Homo sapiens: one gene and its partners. The protein of the gene in region 1 purifies or fractionates together with the protein of each later gene. This does not show direct contact. Each region holds a gene or a part of one and is shown in the gene's direction. Other genes may lie near its edges.

What was found.
Region 2: the proteins of TREML2 (region 1) and ACVR2A purify together in Homo sapiens (affinity purification with mass spectrometry; one large-scale study listed by BioGRID and IntAct). This does not show direct contact.
Region 3: the proteins of TREML2 (region 1) and RAB6A purify together in Homo sapiens (affinity purification with mass spectrometry, with the first as the bait; one large-scale study listed by BioGRID). This does not show direct contact.
Region 4: the proteins of TREML2 (region 1) and ESYT1 purify together in Homo sapiens (affinity purification with mass spectrometry; 2 studies listed by BioGRID and IntAct, with this or other methods). This does not show direct contact.

Annotation. Positions count from the first base shown.
Region 1 is NC_000006.12:41,197,408-41,203,442, reverse strand, and holds the start of TREML2 (trem-like transcript 2 protein precursor), read left to right. Parts: upstream 1-2,293; 5' UTR 2,294-2,434; coding exon 2,435-2,489; intron 2,490-5,013; coding exon 5,014-5,334; intron 5,335-6,035. UniProt on the Homo sapiens protein: Cell surface receptor that may play a role in the innate and adaptive immune response. Acts as a counter-receptor for CD276 and interaction with CD276 on T-cells enhances T-cell activation.
Region 2 is NC_000002.12:147,918,029-147,921,528, forward strand, and holds part of ACVR2A (activin receptor type-2A isoform 1 precursor), read left to right. Parts: intron 1-418; coding exon 419-564; intron 565-2,201; coding exon 2,202-2,316; intron 2,317-3,500. UniProt on the Homo sapiens protein: On ligand binding, forms a receptor complex consisting of two type II and two type I transmembrane serine/threonine kinases.
Region 3 is NC_000011.10:73,719,575-73,723,074, reverse strand, and holds part of RAB6A (ras-related protein Rab-6A), read left to right. Parts: intron 1-2,175; coding exon 2,176-2,229; intron 2,230-3,500. UniProt on the Homo sapiens protein: The small GTPases Rab are key regulators of intracellular membrane trafficking, from the formation of transport vesicles to their fusion with membranes.
Region 4 is NC_000012.12:56,131,267-56,134,766, forward strand, and holds part of ESYT1 (extended synaptotagmin-1), read left to right. Parts: coding exon 1-50; intron 51-210; coding exon 211-300; intron 301-482; coding exon 483-538; intron 539-942; coding exon 943-1,066; intron 1,067-1,154; coding exon 1,155-1,331; intron 1,332-1,452; coding exon 1,453-1,535; intron 1,536-2,150; coding exon 2,151-2,199; intron 2,200-2,321; coding exon 2,322-2,408; intron 2,409-2,514; coding exon 2,515-2,607; intron 2,608-2,813; coding exon of another isoform or gene 2,814-2,843; coding exon 2,844-2,915; intron 2,916-3,075; coding exon 3,076-3,162; intron 3,163-3,500. UniProt on the Homo sapiens protein: Binds calcium (via the C2 domains) and translocates to sites of contact between the endoplasmic reticulum and the cell membrane in response to increased cytosolic calcium levels.

The DNA of each region.
Region 1 (6,035 bases):
AATTTTTAAATGGGAAAAATAAATATAAAGACAAAATACACTGCTGTATTAAATCAAATGATAGATGTAAAAGTCTAATGTATACGTATTTTTAATGATTTTGACCAATGCTTCCAAATTTCTCTTAAGAAAGATTGAATCCAGTGCATACTTCCTCGATCAGCGAATGAATGTTTGATTCTTTCTACCCTCATCAGCACAGTGATCCCAAGGGTCACACTTTAGACGATGATTGGCTCAGTGCTGGGCGCACTGTATCAGTTTCATAGAATCATGGATTCCAAGCGCATAAAGTCCCCACAAGAGATAAATCCCCCACTCCTGAAGCAACTTACTGTTCTGATGGGGGAAGGGATGGAGGAACTTACTGTGTGTGCTGGGGAGGGGAGATGGCCCCTGAACTCAGGGAGCTCAGGAAGTTCTGAGGACTGGGTGAGAAACATTGAAAAAGGAAGGGTGAATAAGGAAAACAAAACACGTCTGTGAGCTGAGAGGTCTCAAGTGACAATCGTGTCTCATTCCTACGCCCCCAGTGCCTACCTAGCCCCATGCATAGCAATGAGGTTGTGGGAATGAACAAATGAATGAATGAATTAATGAGTGAGTGAATGAGTTGAGAGACTACAAAAGCTTAGGGTCAGCCGAGATAGACTTCTTTGCTTGGAGCTTGGGGCTTCAAGGTCAATTTAAGATTGTGGCCATGCAAGCTTGAGGACTTTTTGCTCTGAGTCCTGTTAAAATTAATGAAAATGGAGACCAGGCCTGAAGAGTCCCTGAGCAAAAATTAAAAAAACAGTTAGGCCTCATAAGTGACCTCAACTTTGCTTGATTTGCAAATATCAGTGAAACTTAACACGAGCTATTTCTTGTAAATGTGTATATTAAGGAAAAATAGAACTTAAGCTCAACCAATCAAAAGAAACTTATATAATTAACTAGGGTCTTTCCAACAGGATAGGCCAAATAAGGGAACTATATAACTATAACTAATTAAATATTTTCTTCAGTTTACTTGTCCTGTAGGAGTCTTCCCCTTGCATTCCCCCAGTGGAGCTCCTCAACCTCTTCTGTTTGGAGCTGCCTGATTCATGAATTGTTGTTTGCTGAAATAATCTGTTTAAAATTTTATTGTGCCTCAGTTTACCTTTTGACAGTCCCATCTAAGGAGTAGAAACATGGCACTAGTGAGTAGGGGGAGCATACATAATCACGGGAGTCCAGCTGGGTCCCCACACACTGAAGGAGCAGATGACACAGGTACCGGACATCAAAAATTGATGCTTCTGATTCTAGGCCTTGGGGTAAGTGAAGGGTGTGGTCTTGGGCCTAGTGCTGGGTCATTTCCACTGGAGCTGGTGGCTGTACAGGCGAGATAGCATTGAGCAGGAGGAAGTGGAGGGCACTTGCCTGCGTGCTGACGTAGGCTGGAGGCAGGGGAGGAAGGGGGTCTTGAGATGAGGTGGGTGAGGGGAAGTACTGCGGAGGCTGTAGGAAGCCTGCACGAGGGACTAGGAGTCTAGAGGGAGCTGATGGTGAGTAGAGTCGACAGGAGGAGAGGCAGGGAGAGGGACAGAGAGAGGAGACGTATGGATAGGGAAAAGGAGAGGCTGCTGGGGTGTGTGTGAGACTGTGTGCATGGGCGTGTGTGTGTGTGTGTGAAAGTGAATAAAAGACAAAGTGAGACTGTGAGTGTGAGTGCATGTGCATGCACACCTGTGTGTGAGAGTACAGGAACCCCTCCCTCAACCCAAAATTTATGCCCTGAGTCTTAACAATTTGCATTTTTCCCGCTTGACAAAAGTAAGATTTCAAGTGAGCCTGTAAGAGGTTATTTGCAACAGTGAACACAAGTGACTGTTCTGAGCAGCCAGGAGCCTGGGAGAGAGAGAGAGGAAGGAACAGAAAGAATCTGCAATGAATGAATGAATGAGAGTTTATAAGAACTTCCCTGTGAATGTATATATGTAAGAAACTAGGGTCTGAGATGCTCCATCTCAGCCTAAGAGCCCGCACCCCTGGGTCTCTGAGCCCAGAAGATTCCAGGAAGGTCTATACCTGACGTTCCAGAAGCCTCACCCCAGCCCCCTTGCTGGATCCTAGGGACCAGTTTCTGGGGGAGGTTGGGGAGGGCGGGGAGCCCTCTGACTGTGAGTCCTCCCGGCTTGGGGCCCCAGACTGGGTGGAGCAGCCACACCTGCCTGAAGTTCCGAGGAAAAGGGCGGAAACAGCTGCCAGCACCGCCCTCATAATAGGCTCAATGAATCCCTGCGGTTGGCTGGGGGCAGTGGGTCCCACACTGCCTCACTTCCCTAAATGGGCAGCTTCACTTTTAGAACCCCGGGTCCTTCCCTGGCAGGCCCAGGTGGCACATCCTGTGTCGGGTGGGCCCTCACCTTGGATCTCCAGGCCTGACACTGCCCAGCTGGATGGAACCATGGCCCCAGCCTTCCTGCTGCTGCTGCTGCTGTGGCCACAGGGTTGCGTCTCAGGTGAGGGGAGAAGGGGCTGACTTGTGGAGGAGGGAGTGGGTACAGAGGCAGGAGCTCAGGGCCTTTTTCTTACCCTCCTTACCAGCAGTTTTCTTGTTTAGTGTTTTGTGGGTTGGGGAAGGAGGAGATTAGGGCTGACTTAGCTCTTTACCCTAATATCAGGCCCCAGGCGAAGCTAACCCAGGCCTCCCAAGCCAAGATAAAGCTCTGGACCCTCTCTGCATTGGCTCCTTTATCTGCTAGGCTTCCTCAGGCTTTAAAGCAGAGCCCTCAATTTCCTCACACAAATAGCTTTCTCTGCTTGGCCTCTGTCAGGAAGCCCTGCTTAGTTATGACAGCAATCATTGCATCATGTGTGTTTTGAACTGAATTTGAACATTTTTCTTGAAATGCTGATGCCACATCCTGTCCCTGCCTCTGTCCTGAAGGGACCAGTGTGTGAATGCCTTTCCCACCTCACAGATACCAATGCTCCTTGAGGAACCTCACCCATTCCTGCCCCTCTCGCTGCCATGGCAACCAAGTTACCACTTCCTGTTCAGTTCTGGGCATGGTGGGGGTTGGCAAAACTCACCACTGCCTGTGAGAGGGGTGGGAGGTGTAGGCACACATGAAGACATTGCCCTGGAGACCCATCCCAAGGTCACCCAACTCTGCACCTCCCAGAGGGTAGAGAAACAGCTTCCCACTGCCAGGGCAGAAAGGGGTCTCTCTTGTGCTAAGAAATCCTGGGCTCATCCACCAAATAATGAAGTTGGATCATTCTGTTTAGTTTGCAAGGGACAGAGGGATGCTTAGAGAGGGTGCTGCTTCACACAGAGCCTCAGCTCTAGTGGCTGCTGGCTGGGACTTGGGACGGATATCCTGGATTCTGGTGGGACAGATGTCCTGGATTCTGGGCCCTTGACTGTCACAGCTCTGGGTTCCATTGGGGGAACTGGGAGGCCCCAGCATGTGGGAAAAGGAAGCATGAGTTGAGCATGCACTGTGTGCAAAGCACTGACCTGGGGCAGAATTCTCACAGCAACCTGTGAGGGGTGTGGTGCTATTCTCACTTGACTGATAAAGAAACAGAGATATTTCTGTATCAGTCAAGTGTCTGTTTTGATATTTCTGTATCAAACAGGTGACCTAATCACACCACTAAGTGGTAGAAACAGGGTTTCAACCCTTGTTTATTTTGACTCCAAAATGTGTGCTCTCTGTTCTCTACTATGGGGGAGAGTCTTTTTATATGTGGTTTTTTTGGAAGACTCTGGGGTGAAATTATCAGAAGAGTCAGCTGAGCTTAAGGCAGGCAGAGGGGTGGAGGGAGCCCAAGGCAGCTTTCTCCCTCTCTCTGTCCCCTGAGTCACCCTGCACACCCCAGTTCTGCTCTGTCTCTACCAGACTGTGGATTATGAAGGCTTGGACCACATCTTACTCCTCAGCATAGAGAGAAAGATATTGCAGGTGGAAAGTGAATAATTGTAGAATCCTGTGGTTCACACTCCATTGGGAGTTTGTTTACATGTATATTTAGACAGGCTTGATCTATGGGTTTTATGTAACTAGAATATTTTAAAACTAAACACCAGATGGAATGAACTAAGGAGAGTTATTATTTAAAGAGGACTAAGTGAACCTATTTGTGAAATAAATAACTGTTAATCATATTTTCAAATACTAGATTTTCTTATCTACCTAGTTAGTTGGGCACTGAAATTTCACAACTTAATGACCTGTGTTTGTGTCTCTGCATCTGTCTCACTGAGGGCATGACCTGGGTTTTTCCCACAAGAATTCCCTGGGATGCCGGGCACAGTGGCTCACGCCTGCAATCCCAGCACTTTGGGAGGCCGAGGCAGGTGGATCACGAAGTCAAGAGATTGAGACCATCCTGGCTAACATGGTGAAATCCCGTCTCTACTAAAAATACAAAAAATTAGCCGGACGTGGTGGCAGGCACCTGTAGTCCCAGCTACTCAGGAGGCTGAGGCAGGAGAATAGTTTGAACCCAGGAGGCGGAGGTTACAGTGAGCTGAGATCGTGCCACTGCACTCCAGCCTGGGCAACAGAGCGAGACTCCGTCTCAAAAACAAAACAAAACAAAACAAAACAAAACAAAAATGAATTCCCTGGGAATCCCTGAAGACAGAGCTTGTCACTTTCCCATCAGACTAGAAAATACCATGAGGAAAGGGGCTGTGTCTGATGGAGCTCCGAGTGTAAATGCTGCGTTTCCTCCATTAGACTGGGGACTCACTGAGGGATATACCTGCCTCCTCCATCAGACTGAAAGCTCCCTGAGAGCGGGGGTTGTGTCTCCACTGTAATACTGGAAGCTAGCTGTTTTCAGGGCCCATTCACCTCCCTTCAGATTGGGGCAAGCTCCCTGAAGGCGGGGCTGTATTTCCCCCTCAATCTGTGGGTTCTGTGACAGCAGGACAATATCCACTCTACCCTTCACCATGATCTTCAACTTTCATGATGTCTTCTTCCTCTCCTCTTGCCAGACCTTATTCAATAAGTATTGTCTCCACAGGCCCCTCTGCTGACAGTGTATACACAAAAGTGAGGCTCCTTGAAGGGGAGACTCTGTCTGTGCAGTGCTCCTATAAGGGCTACAAAAACCGCGTGGAGGGCAAGGTTTGGTGCAAAATCAGGAAGAAGAAGTGTGAGCCTGGCTTTGCCCGAGTCTGGGTGAAAGGGCCCCGCTACTTGCTGCAGGACGATGCCCAGGCCAAGGTGGTCAACATCACCATGGTGGCCCTCAAGCTCCAGGACTCAGGCCGATACTGGTGCATGCGCAACACCTCTGGGATCCTGTACCCCTTGATGGGCTTCCAGCTGGATGTGTCTCCAGGTGAGCAGGCTGCAGTGGCTCTGGGACGGGTGGAGGGAGTCCCTCCTGCCCCACACTCCACTAACATCAGAGATAATAAGGATAATAATCCATCAGTGGTCATGTTGCACTGTAGTGTTTTCAGAGTGCCTTTATGGCACTATTCGTGGCACTATTGTCACCATTTTACAGATGAAGATAATGAGACCTGAAAACCCAGTGTGACTCTGAGCTTGTCCGGGGTCCCAGAGCTAGCAGGTGGCTGAGATAAGGTTCAAACTTGGCACTGTCTGTGCTGTGTTTTATTCACTCATTGCTTCAACATAATTCATTGAGCCCCTATTATGGGGCAGGCACTATTCTAGGCTCTAAGGAGACAGTGAGCAAAAACACTCACAATCCTGCACTATGGGAGATGACAGGCACACTTATTATCCAGACAAATAATTGCAGAAAACAAGAGGTGTTCATAAGAAACTAGGAACTGTTTCAAATAATTGCAAATAACTAGAGGTGTTCATGAACTAGTAAGCGACTCGGTGGTGGGGGAGCTACTGAAGTACTGGGGGTCAGAGAACACCTCCCTTAGCAGACAACACCAAGCAGAGCCCTGAATGGTGAGCATTTTCCAGCCCTGTTGAAATCTGGGTGCTTTGAAGAGCACTTTGTCGCAAGAGCTGAATATGCAAAGGTCCTGAGGTCAGAAGGAGCTTGGCTTGTAT
Region 2 (3,500 bases), on another chromosome or scaffold:
TAGAGGAATATTCTACATATTAGTTGTTATTTTATGTTGTTATTTTGTGTTCTGCTAGTCCCATGATATAACAACTCTATAGTCAGGATATTTTAACTTTTAAAATATTTTCTAGAACCTTAGATTTTCAACTAGTCTTTAAAAAAAAAAAAAAACAAACTTGTCTTATAGATTGGTGGAAGTTGACTATTCTTGTAACAAAAGTTTAAAGCTCTGGTATTTCCTTCTGGTCAAATGTTTATTAATGTGAAATGGAAGGAAATTTGAACCATTTGAACCATTCCAGAAAGATTGTTTCTTGGATATTATTTTTCCCTGAAAGGGAAACTCACAACCTCTTATAGGTAAAAAGAAAAGTCTCCTTATACATATGGCCTTTGTCAAGAACATAAGTTTCTTTTTTTCCCTCTTTTTTTAGGGTTCACTATCAGACTTTCTTAAGGCTAATGTGGTCTCTTGGAATGAACTGTGTCATATTGCAGAAACCATGGCTAGAGGATTGGCATATTTACATGAGGATATACCTGGCCTAAAAGATGGCCACAAACCTGCCATATCTCACAGGTAGACTAAATTTATATTGTTTTCCCAGATAATTGAGTATATATTTACTAAACTTTTAAGCCCCTGGGTAAATTTTAATTTTTCCTTTGTTATGCAATCATGCTTTACAAGACAGTCAGTTTTCATTTGTTTTTTAAAATTAGCTTTGAGATTGGCCAGGAAGTATTTTGGATAATGTATATGTTAACATTATTGGTAAAGTTTAATGATCTACTTCATCTCATTTCTGAAAGCATGATTGAAAATAAACTATATTTTCTCGATCTCAAAGGAAAAAGACATTTGTTTTACCTCAAAACATGATTTATCAATAGGGATTATTATCCAAGGGCATGTAATGAAGGAGAGACTTTGAATGTCTTCCTTGCTTGTTTTTTGAATGACCTTATCTGTACCCTGAGCCAAGTCTTAAAGGGAGGCATCACTTAAAACAGTTGTCCAGTGAAGAAATACTACTTAGACCCAACAGTTGTCATGCCCGCAAAAGGAAAAATGATTGTGTCTTAAACATGGAATTCAGTTTGCCATGTATTTAATTTTCTTGAACGTGGGATTCAATTTGTTGTCTTGTGTTCCATTTAAAGATGGTTGTTTGAAAAGTAGGCATTAACTGATTCACAGAACAGATACTTAGCTGAGTGCCACCAGGCGATGTTTTAGGTTGCTGGGAGGCATTATTGTAAGTCAGCCTCTAATTTAGGTTCTGATTTTGCAAACTTTAAATGACGTCTACCTCAGAAATAACTCTTCTCACTTTCTTACATGCAGTCTATTGGCCTCGTCTTCGATTTTCCCTTGCCCTACCTGGTCACATAGGGAATTAATCCTTAAGGACCCCCAAAGTTATTAAGGGCCTGAAAGTCTTTTGAAACTAAGATCGATTAGCTTTTATAGCATTTGGGAGTGTCTGCTTGTGCTTTCAGTATCCCATTATTGGTCTATATGTCTGCACATAAATTTAACCACTAGTCATTGGCATAGATGTATTTAACTAGGGTATAGTAATCTCTAGGATGAGCCAGTTGAGACAGGTGTGTAGAAGAGGATATCTTACTGCCTTAAAACTGTTACCCTTTTCAGAACACCAGGATCTAGCTAGAGCAGTGTATGTTTATGGTAAAAAGTTTCTGTTATTCATTCCATAAGATGCTTTTCTACAACCAGGTGGAAGAATATAAGAACCTCTATAATAAGGGATTATTCTAAAATGTAGGTCTCTACCAATAAGCAGAAGGCCCCAATTCAGCTATTTTTTAAAAGTTTCTTCATTTTGGTTTAAAATTTCTGTTTCTATGGGAGTTTGCAAATCAGAACTCTGAGATATTAACAGTAGTTTTATGATTGGTAGGTGGGTGACATAGATAACATATCTTTTTGGTATGGCAGATTTTTATATAACTGCTTTATAGGTAGGATTCCTTCTTATTGTCCATGTTATGAATAGGGGTTTGTCACCGTGCTCTTGTGTTTAAGGCTGCATGGGGCTCTGAGCTTTGTTTGTCTCACTTTCTCTGCATTTCATAATTTTAAGTAACTATTTTTTCATAGTGTACATATTCCCCCTTTTCTGCTTTCAATAAAAAATTTAAAAAGGTAACTAGTTTAAACTTAATTTGAATACTCTTTTTATTTGCAAGGGACATCAAAAGTAAAAATGTGCTGTTGAAAAACAACCTGACAGCTTGCATTGCTGACTTTGGGTTGGCCTTAAAATTTGAGGCTGGCAAGTCTGCAGGCGATACCCATGGACAGGTAAGGATGATGATTATAAAATGTAAGAAAAAATAAACTTGTTCCATATTTTCTTAGAATGGCATGTCAGGACTGAATTAGTCTAAAATTGTTGTGGTGTTTAAATCAGCATCTAATAGAGTTATCAAAGTTTCTGAGGAAGACATTTTCATATGATGGTAGAGGACTCAGGTGGTTTAGATCAAGCACTTCGTAAAGCAACCCTTAGACACACGTCATAGGATTCTTTTTGAAAAATTGATCAAAGAATAATCCACCACCTTTTAACAGACCTCATTCTTAGGGAATTCTTCGTATGAACTCCGTAGTTTTAGTCTGTTAGTTCTTTCACCATCTTAAGAAGAGTGGAAGAATAATTAGTCACTGTCCTTACTACAGTGTATTAAGATTTCCTGTCCATTTTCCCATGCAATAATAGTTTATTGCTTCTTGTTGTTTATTGCTTCATTAATTTCTTTAATCAACTTGATGGCTTTTCTCCAAATTCTCTCCAGAGTTCAGAGCACTTGTAAACCCCTGAATTAGGTAACTCTTCACACCTCTGTATATATCCATATGCACAGAAATCTTAGTAATGGGAACCTCTAGGAAGGCCAAAAGGGAAAAGAACATTATCCATACAGTTTATTCTCAGAAACTTTGAGGCTGGAAAAGATGTTTTCATTCCTGCAAGATCACCTTTTATTTTTATTTATTTATTTATTTTTGAGACAGAGTCTCGCTCTGTCACCCAGGCTGGAGTGCAGTGGCATGATCTTGGCTCACTGCAGCCTCTGCCTTCCAAGTTCAAGTGATTCTCCTGGCTCAGCTTCCTGAGTAGCTGGGATTACACACATGCACCACCATGCCCAGCCTAATGTTTGTATTTTTAATGGAGATGGGGTTTCACCAAGTTGGCCAGGCTTGTATCGAGCTCCTGACCTCAAGTGATCCTCCCACCTCGGCCTCCCAAAGTGCTGGGATTATAGGCGTGAGCCACCACGCCCAGCCAAGATCACCTTTTAATCAGGGAAACCAGTTCAACCTAAAAGGTGACATTTTCTACAAAGCTAAATGGTTCAGGCCTTCGACATTATCATTTCTTCATCTTTCATATCATGTAAATTATTTGGCCAACTAATTCTTAGGTTTCTTTTCCCCAGCATATCCTATTGGTTCCTGAGGACACGTTTTTAATGTCATGG
Region 3 (3,500 bases), on another chromosome or scaffold:
CACTTTGGGAGGCCGAGGTCGGGGGGAATCACTTGAGGCCAGGAGTTCGAGACCAGCCTGTCCAACATGACAAAACCCCATCTCTACTAAAAATACAAAAAGTAGCTGGGCTTGGTGGTGAATGCCTGTAATCCCAGCTACTTGAGAGGCTGAGGCACTAAAATTGCTTGAACCCAGGAGGCAGAAATTGCGGTGAGCCGAGATCACGCCACTGCACTCCAGCCTGGGCGACTGAGCGAGACTCTGTCTCTAAATAAATAAATAAATAAATAATCGATGAACGAATAAATGAGAACTAAATGGGGCAATGTGTATAAATCGGCACTTAGTAGATAATCAATTTATGTAATTTACTGTAGCTTTCATTCTTGAATATATGTAAAAACATGTAAAGACTTATCAACATTGCATTGATTTTTCATATAAAGATATTATCTTTAGGCAGGGTGTAGTGGCTCATGCCTATAGTCCCAGCGTGTTGGAAGGCCAAGTGGGGAAGATCTCTTGAACCTAGGGGTTCCAGACTAGCCTGGACAACATGGCAAAACCCTGTCTCTATAAAAAAATACAGAAATTAGTGGGGCATGGTGGCATGCACCTGTAGTCCCAGCTACTCGAGAGGATTGCTTGAGCCAGGAGGTTGAGGCTGCACTGAGACAAAATCACACCCCTATATACCAGCTTGGGCAAGAGTGTGAGACTGTCTCAAAAAAAAAAAAAAAAAAAAAAAATATATATATATATATATATATATATATATATATATATACACACACACATATATATTTGAATTTTATTTACGGAAGCATCAGAAAAGAATAAAATACTTAGGAACAAATTTAACAAACAGCATAAGACTATACAAAACACTGCTGGGAGAAATTAAAGGAGACACATGTATTAGTTTGTTCTCATGCTGCTAATAAAGAGATAACCCAAGACTGGGTAATTTATAAAGGAAAGAGGTTTAATAGACTCAAGTTCCACATGGCTGGGGAGGCCTCAGGAAACTTACAATCATGGCAGAAGGGGAAGCAAACATGTCCTTCTTCACATGGCAGCAACAAGGAGAAGCACAGAGCAAAGAGAGGGGAAATCCTTTTATAAAACCATCAGATCTCGTGAGAACTCAACTATGACACACACAAAATTCTATTTTTCTGCTAACAGAAATAAAATCCCCAACTGATGGACCACTTTTCTGATCTAGTTTTTGATTGTTTTTTAGGAACTTAAAATTCTTAGTGACTCATATTTTAAAATGCACAGACTCAGTTTCTGTTTTAAGGAATATGGCACAAAGATATTTAGGGAAAAAGTATGTATGTACACGCACATATATACATAGTATATGTGCACACAAACATTAATGAGGTGGTAAAACTTCTAAAATAGAGTCCATATCAACATCCTCTTTCTGGAGTCTGTCTTTCTTCCATTCTTTTTATTTATCTCCCCTAATTAATACTGGACTGTTTTTTAACTTGTATACTTTTTTTCCTTTCTTTTTTGTAGTCTGCCTTCTTTCTATTCTCTTATTATTTCACCATTTTCTCTTGATAGGGAAAACAGCAGCCAGGCAATAGAACTTTACATTTGTTTTCACCACAGAAGGAAGCTATCATTGTGTGGTACAGAGGAAAACTTGTTTTCCTTACCTAATGACTTTTATTTTATATTGGAAAAATCATGTCTCTTATGGAAAGTTATGATGTTTGTGAGTCTCTGGCTGTCTATGGCATTAGGACAGTTGACAATATATCAACAGTATTTTATAAAACTGCTCTTGGGGCAGATACTTACCATTCTGAGTGGAGAACAATCAGATACTCAAACTAAAGTTCAAATACAAATATTTAAACCAAAGTTGCCATTGTCTTGTTATTTGTAAAATGAGAAAAGTAGGGATGAGAATAAGCTACCTGGCAGGAATGTATAAAGATTAGAGATGATCATGTAAAAGGCTTAAAACAATCTCTGATATGAAGCAAGTGCTGAATACATGAAAATCATTATCACTGGAAATTTTGTTTGTCCTTAATTGTCCTTAATTGACTATGTTGTATTGATTTGTTTATTCATTATTTCTTCCACAATCATGAATCCCATTTGAATCCTAAACTGCTGGCCACCATTAAACTTATTATTTGTTAACTTCTTTGTTTTGTTTTACAGGCAACAATTGGCATTGACTTTTTATCAAAAACTATGTACTTGGAGGATCGAACAGTGAGTAATATTTTCAGTGTGCAATTTTCTGCAACATTCCAGGTTAGAAAACTGCAATCAAAGTTATCAATGATTGTCACCATAAGAAGTACTTAGCAAAGTTACCAAAGATAGTTTACAGTTGTTGAGAAAAACTCTTATTACCGAGTGAGTAGTACTTGGCAGTCATCTTGATTTGGAAAAATGAAAACAAAGAGCTTTACAGAGAATTAAAGGAGAATTTTTATGAAGAAATTAAACCTGCTAAAGACCTTCTAAATGCCACCCTTGAGGCATTCAAAAAGATTTCAATTTGTGAACTTCAAGATTTTTTTTGTCAGGATAGGATGCGTATCAAAGTGACTGACAAAAAAGAAGTTATGTGGGCAGGGTGCGGTGGCTCACACCTGTAATCCCAGCACTTTGGGAGGCTGAGGCAGGTGGATCATCTGAGGTCAGGAGTTTGAGACCAGCTTGGCCAACATGATGAAACCCCATCTCTATTAAAAATACAAAAAATTAGCCAGGCGTGGTGGCGGGCGCCTATAATCCCAGCTACTTGGGAGGCTGAGGCAGGAGAATCGCTTGAATCCAGGATGCAGAGGTTGCAGTGAGCTGAGATTGCGCCATTGCACTCTAGCCTGGGCAACAAGAGCGAAACTCCGTTGCAAAAAAAAAAAAAAAAAGTAATGTGTATTTATTTGTTGGATTTTTGTCTTTCATCCTTTGGAATGTTTTCTTTAAATACAGTGTAAAATCTGTATTCTAGCCCACTACCCCTTGAAGAGATACTTGTCACCTAAACAGTGAATATCTTAAATGCAGTACTTTGAGACCTGCACCCAAAAACATTATTTAATTTCCAGTGTTATTTCTTAGGTGTTTTTTTTTTCCTGAATATTCTCTTTTATGTTTTGATATATAGCATGTCATTTCTTAAAATTTGAAAGCGGCCAGGTGTGGTGGCTCACGCCTGTAATCCCAGCACTTTGGGAGGCCAGGATGGACAGATCACCTGAGGTCAGGAGTTGAAGACCAGCCTGGCCAACATGGCGAAACCCCATCTTTTCTAAAAATACAAAAATTAGCTGGGCGTGGTGGCGGGCGCCTGTAATCCCAGCTACTCGGGAGGCTGAGGCAGGAGAATCGTTTGAACCCGGGAGGCAGAGGTTGCAGTGAGCCGAGATCACACCACTGCACTTCAGCCTGAGCGACAAGAATGAGAGTCTGTCTAAAAAAAAAAAAAAAAATTTGAAAGCTTGGAAACGACTTTATCATGATGCAAGAACTTG
Region 4 (3,500 bases), on another chromosome or scaffold:
ATGTGGAAGTGAAGAAATATTTTTGCAAAGCAGGAGTCAAGGGCATGCAGGTAGGCCAGATGTCAGGGGCCACATAATAGGGAATGTTTGTCCTGCGTTTCATGGGATATGGGGAAGTGTGAGGTTGGAAAGACCAAGGCTGAGAAAGTCTGGGAGGACAGAAGAGGGACTTTTCTGGGGAAAGGCTTTGATTTTCTCTTCTTGCCTCAGCTACATGGCGTTTTGCGGGTGATACTGGAGCCACTCATTGGGGACCTTCCCTTCGTGGGGGCTGTGTCAATGTTCTTCATCCGACGCCCGGTAAGGGAAAACAATGAAGGGGTATGGGGAAGCAGGAGAAACAGAGGACTGGGAGGATGAGGGCAGCCAGTGAAGGGGAATGAGAAGGGAACTGACAAGAAGGCCGAGGGGTTCTGGCAACTGTTTGATGGGTATGACCACACCCCATAGGATCTGTCCTGACCCCTGCTCTTTCCCTCCAGACCCTAGACATCAACTGGACAGGGATGACCAACCTGCTGGATATCCCAGGACTTAGGTATCAAGGACTTACTGAGCACCTGCTGAGTGTTCCAGCGCTGGGTTGGGGGTTTAAGGGACACAGAGCAGTCAAAGATGCTGCTTGTGTCCTCTAGGAGCCTCAACTTCATTTGGGGAGCAAAGACAAATACCCCTGCAAAGTTTGATACTGTGATTTTTCTTTGGGTTGGGGGAGCAGGAAGGGAATGCAGAGGGCTGAAGACTGCAAAAGGCAATGGGGATGGCAGTGAAGAAGGGAGAGAGCAGTAGGTGGGGAATTAGGGTAGAAGAGTAGCACAAAGGATTTTCACAAAAGGACTTTCTTACAGCTTTAGGTCTCTCTTGGGTGTGGGAAACATAGTTGGGGTTAGGAGAAAATTGGAAGTTGAGGCCATACCCACTCCTTTCTACTCCCCCATTCAGCTCACTCTCTGACACCATGATCATGGACTCCATTGCTGCCTTCCTCGTGTTGCCCAACCGATTACTGGTGCCCCTTGTGCCTGACCTTCAAGATGTGGCTCAGTTGCGTTCCCCTCTGCCCAGGGTATGGCCTTTCCCCCACTAGATAGATCCTTCTCTCAGGAACCCCTTGCTGGGTCCTTAGTTTCTCACCATCTGATTCCTTCCTCCAGGGCATTATTCGAATTCACCTGCTGGCTGCTCGAGGGCTGAGTTCCAAGGACAAATATGTGAAGGGCCTGATTGAGGGCAAGTCAGACCCATATGCACTTGTGCGTTTGGGTACCCAGACATTCTGCAGTCGTGTCATTGATGAAGAACTCAACCCACAGTGGGGAGAGACTTATGAGGTGGGAGAGTTGAGCAGCTCTGTGAAATGGGGAAGCCCCAGGAGGTTGTGAGAGAAGATGCTGATTGGATGATCCTCACAGCTGCAGCCCCATGAGACACTCAGCCTTCTGTGTTCCCCAGGTGATGGTACACGAGGTCCCAGGGCAGGAGATTGAAGTGGAGGTGTTCGACAAGGATCCAGATAAAGATGACTTTCTGGGCAGGTGAGACTCTGCCTGTTAGGATTCTAAAGCCCATGCTGGCCAGGCACGGTGGCTCATGCCTGTAATCCCAGCACTTTGGGAGGCTGAGGCGGGCGGATCACGAGGTCAGGAGATTGAGACCATCCTGGCTAACACGGTGAAACCCCATCTCTACTAAAAATACAAAAATTAGCCGGGTGTGGTGGCGGGCGCCTGTACTCCCAGCTACTCGGGAGGCTGAGGCAGGAGAATGGTGGGTGAACCCGGGAGGAGGAGTTTGCAGTGAGCCGAGATCGCGCCACTGCACTCCAGCCTGGGCGACAGAGCGAGACTCTGTCTCTAAAGAAAAAAAATAAAAATAAAAAAAATAAAGCCCATGCTACCGAGGTTCTGGAGGTAATTATACTCACTTTCTGGGCCTGGGAATCATGTATCATTTTCCTTCCTAACCTCCCCACCCCCAGCCCCTACCATGCACATACTCACGCATGCAGGTGAATATCTTCTGAGAGGAATAAGGGAGTCTGAGATCTGCCAGTCATTTCTGGGTGGGTGAGTGGAGGGCCACTGACATGCTGCTAATTACAACACTACCCTTTTCTTCCTTTCACTACCCTCTCCCCCGCCAACCCTCAGAATGAAGCTGGATGTAGGGAAGGTGTTACAGGCTAGCGTTCTGGATGATGTAAGTTGGGAGAAGAGGAAGGTGGGGGCTGATCTCACCCTTTGGGTAGATAGTAGTTGCTACATTGGTAGGGAAGTAGTTGAGCAGGTATCTGATCTCTACTACATCTCAATTTCTTCTAGTGGTTCCCTCTACAAGGTGGGCAAGGCCAAGTTCACTTGAGGCTAGAATGGCTGTCACTTTTGTCAGATGCAGAGAAACTGGAGCAGGTAAGCCACATGGGAAATAGGAAGCTGGCAGGGGAGAAATAGGTAGCTGGAAGTGTAGGGGACTTGGAACGGGGACCAAGATCTGACTACTACCACCCCTCCCCAGGTTCTACAGTGGAATTGGGGAGTCTCCTCTCGACCAGATCCCCCGTCAGCTGCCATCTTAGTTGTCTACCTGGATCGGGCCCAGGATCTTCCTGTGAGTTTGGCTGGGTGAACAGGAGCCCTGGATGTAACATTCCCCAACCCTGCCTTGCTGAGGATGCAAATGTCCCTGCCTGCTTTGCTCCAGAAGTATCAGCATGTAACATAAGGGTCCCAGGGAGGGGATCAGATCCATCTCAGGGAAAGGATTCTGATGCGATCCCACCTTCCTTCACCAAAACCAAAACCGAATCCCCCAAGATGGTGACCTCTGAATTGTACCCACCACAGCTGAAGAAGGGGAACAAGGAACCCAACCCTATGGTACAACTGTCAATTCAGGATGTGACTCAGGAGAGCAAGGTGAGGGCCAGGACATCATTGTGGGTGGCCAGGTAGGACAGGGAGAGGCCTATTCTTGGGATGGTTTCCCCTTTAGAATGCCTGTTACATGCAGGGGTTTTCTGCAGAAACAGGAATGGTGCTGTGGTATACACCCTTAATCCCTCCTCTACATCTCCAGGCTGTCTACAGTACCAACTGCCCAGTGTGGGAGGAAGCGTTCCGGTTCTTCCTACAAGACCCTCAAAGCCAGGAGCTCGATGTGCAAGTGAGATAATCACCTCTTCATCCCCTCCCGAATACCCTATTCTGACTTCCCAGATCTGTACCATTTCTCCTCTCCTTCTTTTCCCTTGATTCCTATTTTTAATCCATCTACCTAGACTCCCCACCTCCCTGAATATCTCTCCATTGTTCCCCAACTGTCGCTCCAGAATAATATTTTTTTTTTTTTTTGAGATGGAGTCTCGCTCTGTTGCCCAGGCTGGGGTGCAGTGGTGCGATCTCGGCTTACCGAAACCTCCACCACCTGGGTTCAAGCAATTCTCCTGCCTCAGCCTCCCGAGTAGCTGGGATTACAGGCAGGCACCACCATGCCCGGCTAAT